Regions from separate parts of the Homo sapiens genome. Here region 1 is linked to region 2. A link means that fine-mapping ties the variant in region 2 to the expression of a gene that starts in the linked region. Tissue or cell type: whole blood. Region 2 holds a variant in brackets; the other region holds the start of a gene. All regions are shown on one strand. Distances are from middle to middle.

The links. PIP is the estimated chance that this variant, and not a neighbour inherited with it, causes the effect.
Region 1: PCTP starts here. The variant in region 2 is fine-mapped to the expression of PCTP in whole blood (TOPMed, PIP above 0.99).

What each region holds. Positions count from the first base shown.
Region 1 is chr17:55,749,806-55,752,494 of GRCh38, forward strand. It overlaps PCTP (phosphatidylcholine transfer protein), which reads left to right and starts at 1,246. Exons shown (of 6, transcript NM_021213.4): 1 at 1,246-1,439. The coding sequence starts at 1,299. RefSeq lists a silencer at 1,044-1,383.
Region 2 is chr17:55,894,714-55,897,402 of GRCh38, forward strand. No RefSeq gene overlaps it. Among named protein-coding and RNA genes, the nearest start is that of PCTP, 150 kb to the left of the region's middle. The variant T/A (reference allele first, on the strand shown) is at 1,369.

The DNA.
Region 1 (2,689 bases), 140 kb before region 2:
TAAAACAGTGGGAAAGTATGTCTAGCCTAAACTTTTGTGCATTTAGTCTAGGAAAATTTCACATCCCTCTTTCCACACCTATAAAGCCAAACAGAACCAGGACTGACTTGAGGAAAGCAATTATTTATCTCTGCTGTGTCTAACTAAGCAAGCTGCCAAATGTGATCATTTGCCTGATTGGAAAATCACATAAATTAAGACTTTGCCATCAACTTTCTTTCAAGTAAGGAAAGAAAAGCATTTCAATATAGTAATGCAAAACAAGTGGAAATTGTTATTGAACATTTACTTGGACGGGCACTGTGGAAAATTATTCCTTGTCCAACCACCTCCTCAGCTGTAACTGGTAGCACAATTCTTGACCCATTTTACAGATTAGGAAACATGAGTTTCCAGAGTTTATTGGCACTCACGTGGCTGTTACATCGTTTTGATGTTCAAACGACCTACTTTATTCAAAGTCAGGTAGTACAGTCTGCTGGTGGGAAATACAGTATTACTCAAGGGACTTCAAAGGAACAAGAAGATGTTTGAGTTGCACAGTGAGCTAAATTATGCAAGTTGCAGAAATCCTAGGTGGATAGTACGACACCTTTCAGATCAGTTTCTACCCTCAAGGGTGGCAACAACCTTGTAGATCCATTATGGATTAGGTTTCTAAACTGTTTTGGTGTTATGAACCCCTAGAGTCTTCTGGGGAATCCAATGGACCTCGTCTCAGAATAATGTTTTACAATGTATAGCAGAAAGAAGAGAAATTATATTGAAATACACTTCTGGCATTTGACCCCTTAGGATTTTTCCAGCATTTCTACTCTGCCCACCTCTCCTCTCATGTCTACCAAAGAGACTTTCTCTACTTTATTCAGAAAGGTAAATGAGAGACACTCAAACAGGTCTGTAGGTTATGGGAGTAGCAGGGAGTATGGGATAGGCTACTGAGGAGCTGTTTTTGAGGTGACATCACTGTCTCCCTTCCTTTTTCCCTTCCCTCTGGAAGCCTCCTTACTTCTCCAGCTCTTCCTTCCTTCCCCACATCAAGTCCAATTTTTCTCCTTTTACTTCTTGTCTATCCTCCTCACTCCTTGCTCAGCCCCGCCCGCTTTTCTAGGCCCGCCCCTCCAGGGCCCCACCCTCAGGCCGCTCCTCCAGTCTAGGCCCCGCCTTCTCCTCAGTTTCCTGCCAATGACGCTGGGGCAGCCGGGGCAGCCGGGGCAGCCCGGTCACCCCGCCCCCAGGCCCACACTAAGGGTGTCCGCGGCCTGCCCTCCAGGCGGAGGAGCCCGGACTGCGGAAGGATGGAGCTGGCCGCCGGAAGCTTCTCGGAGGAGCAGTTCTGGGAGGCCTGCGCCGAGCTCCAGCAGCCCGCTCTGGCCGGGGCCGACTGGCAGCTCCTAGTGGAGACCTCGGGCATCAGCATCTACCGGCTGCTGGACAAGGTAGCGGCCAACCCGCTGGAGGACCGCGGGGCCTAGAATGCGCCGGGGTCGACCTCCCCGCAGGGAGTGCGGGGCGGCAGTCGCGGAAGGGACAGGGGCGCGTCTTCTCCGGCTCAGGAAGGAGCTCCGCCCGGACCCTGTCTCAAGCTCTGGAGCTAGCGCAGGGGCGGTGCCTCCAAGTGACTGCCGTGCAGATCCAGGGGAGTTGGAAGGTCACAGGAGTTCAGCCTCAGGTCAGGCCCGACGGGGCATGTAGTTAGAAGTTAATGACAGTTGAAACGTGGGTCAGCTGGTTCCTAGGCCCGTGCACACGTCTGCAAGGGACGTTGATCCTCACTCTCCAATGCGTGTCAGTGGCATATGGGGGCTGGGGTGGGGGAGGGGCGGTATCTTAGGGCTTGGATATAGGAGGAAAAGAAACAGAACTTTTCAAGGACTGGATGTGCAGGGTGGTGTCAGGGGTTGCCGAGAAGGGCCCTACTGTTTTAGTGACTCGTTTCTTTTGGTTGTTGCCCCTTCCTTCCAAGTTGCTCTTAATAAGTTGAGTCCGAATCTTCAGGCAGGAGTAAAGATGTAGGAGGAATGGGATTGGTTGTTGAAGTCTTTGGAATCAGGTAGCCATCCAGGTGGAAGGCATTGCCCCTGAGGCCTGTCATCCAAGGCTTGTCATCAGTTGCTTTGTGTAATAGTCGCAGCATGGCAAGTAGGTTAAAAGTCGCCTGCAGGTAATGTGGGTGAAACTGAAGTTTCCTAATACAGGACCAGGATATTATAGTGTTAGAGTTAGGAGGATACCTCATGCTCACCTGGTTAAACCCCAGGTTTCATAGGTGAAAGCAACAGGCCTCAAGGGTGAAGTCACTCCTGAAATGGCCCAGATAAGTGAATAGCAGAGGTGGGATTGGAGGGTTCATGATCTTGTGAATGTCAAACATGTGGTTGCCTTTTTAGGCACTTGCATTTTTGTTTACATCAAATATAGTGTTTTTATATTTTAAAACAGAAAACAAACGTTTGCAATATTTAGAAGTTGCTCACCTGTTAAACAGGAATGAAAACTCTGCCTGTCTCATTGCAGGAATGAAAACTCTGCCTGTCTCATTGCAGGGTTGTTAGGGGGTTCAAATCCAATCTGTCAGATATGTGTGAAAATTTGATAGCTGTAAATAACTCTACAATGCACAGGACAGTGACCCCATACCTCTCCCGGGGAAGAATTATCCAGTCCCAAATTGTAATATTGCCAAGGT
Region 2 (2,689 bases):
ATATAGACATACAGTTTCCCCAGAATCATTTATTTAAGAGACTATTCATTTCTATTGTGTATTCTTGGTGCCCTTCTTGACCATATTGCATGGGTCTATTTCGGGGTTTTCTAGTCTAATCTGTTAGCTGATGTGCCTGTTTTTATGCCAGTACGATACTTTTAGTAATTGTGCTAAAATCAAGCTAGGAAGCTCCCTCCCTTGGACCAGTATTTTTCCAGTGGGTCCCCAAGGTATTCTCAGTTTTTCCTTCTTTTTTTCTTCTTGTCATCTCTTCTTCTCCCATGGCAATCAAGGGGGAGAGTTATTACAGAATATAAGAAGATGAGTTGGATTCAAACGGACATGAGTGTTAATCCTTATTTTGCCATTTATTAACATTGAGACCTTGAAAAATTAATTTTTCTGAGGCTGGAAGAATAATGATAATATTGCCCTGCATTAGCTAGCTAAACTGCCATGGCAGAGACCAAAACAACAGTGAGTCAAACAAGATGGATATTTGTTTTGCTCTCTTCTAACAGTCCTGGGAGTGCAAGAGGCTCTGTTCCTTCCATCTTATTGCTCAACTGTCCTTTAGACAAGGTTTCTCAACTTCAGCATTATTCACATTTGGGGCCGGATAATTCTTCGCTGGGCAGTGGGGGCAGGAACGGATGTTGCCTTGTGTATTGTAGGATGTTTAGCAGCATCCCCGGTCCCTACTAACTAGATGCCACTAGCACTCTCTCCCTGGTTGTGACAATGAAAAAAAATGTCTCTGAACACTTTCAGTGTCTCCTGGAGCAACAAAACCACTCCCTGGTTGAGATCCACTGCCTAAGGATGTGGTCTTTGGTCACGTGATCTAAAGCTGGTTCACCAAGACAAGCTCTAGTTCATAGGCTAGAGGAGGGAGAAAAAGTGGAAGGCAAACAATTTGCTTTTAGGAGAGTTATGTAAAGGTTACACATATCAGTTATGTTCATAGTCTTTGTGCTAAAACTTGGTCATTTGGCAACAGTAAGCCACAAGGGAGGTCCAAATAAATTGTTGGTCTGCTAAAAATCAGGGAGCCTCTATTTCTAAAAGGTTTAGGGAAATATGAATAATGGGAGGAGGCATTTAGAAGCCTCATTACCTTTACAGAATTGTTATACAATTAAATATAATAATGTACCTACAGTACCTAGCATAGTTATATTGTAAATGCTTAGTAAATATTACCCTTATCTCTCTCCTGCTTCTCCATTCCCAAGCACTTGGGCCTATGTCTTTCACACTGAGATTTAGTCTTAAGTCATTCTGATACATAAATATTAATAAAAATGATTCTCTACAACCCTGTGTCTGGGCCAATGTTGGAACTACTCCCAATATATAGACTAC[T/A]CCCAATATATGTTTCTCTTTCAGGATTTTGTTCTCTTTTTCTTTTGTCCTCAGTAGCCTTGCCACCAACACCATCTCCCATGAGCACACATGCACAGGGACCCCTATGCGATGATCCTGGAGGTCTTACTCTGAAGTGAATGACATCTTGCTAGTGATGACTTTTTTTTTTAGATGGAGTCTCCCTCTATCACCCAGGACATAGTGCAGTGGTGCGATCTTGGCTCACTGCAACCTCCACCTCCTGGGTTCAAGCGATTCTTCTGCCTCAGCCTCCCAAGTAGCTGGGACTACAGGTACACACCACCACGCCTGGCTAATTTTTGTATTTTTAGTAGAGACAGGGTTTCACTATGTTGGCCAGGCTGGTCTTGAACACCTGACGTCAGCTGATCCTCCCACCTCAGCCTCCCAAACTGATTTAAATTCTGGCTCAAGAACTTCCTAGGGATGTCACTTTTTAGTTATTTGTATATGTGGTGACAACGTCTGAGCTCAATGTCCTCATCTGAAAAAAAATGGGGATAGTAATATTTGTTTTACAAAGTTGTCGTAAATGAATTGGAAAGTAGAATGTGCTAAGCCCCTATTTGCCTGGTCCTTTAAGTATTATTCCAAAAAATTATTTATAATACCCTATACATTCTGAAATAGTATCTCAATTTTCTAGAAAAGTAACTGTAACTAGGTAAGGCAAATTTGTTTGCCTAAAGTTACACGTGCACACAATATCAGGAGGAGAAATAGATGGGATTTGAACTCGGGTCTCTCTGATAACAAAATCAGTGCCCTTTACATTGACAAAGGTTTTCTTTCATGTCTTTCTCTAGCATAGATTACTCAAGAGGCTTTAAACTACTTCTGTCACTTAAAGTGGGAGCTAAAGGATGAGAACATCATAGAGGGGAACAACACATACTGGGGCCTATCAGAGTGTGAAGGGTGGGACGAGGTAGAAGATCAGGAAAAATAACTAATGCGTACTAGGCTTAACACCTGAGTGATGAAACAATGTGTACAACAAACCCCCGTGACACATGTTTACCTATGTAACAAATACACATCCTGCACATGTACCCCTGAACTTGAAATAAAAGTTAAAAAAAAACCCAAAAAACAAAAAACAAGATGCCCTGTGTGTGAACTTACAGAATATGAGACAATAGCTTCCCCAAGTGGGAGATTACAGAACAGAATGCACAGTCCTCTCTTTGCCTTGGAAAGAGTAATGGTGTGGAGAATGAATGGCTCGGGGAGTGGTCTTGGCCACTGATCTCCCCTTCCCCTGCCTGGCTCTTACCAAAACCACAATCAGGCAATC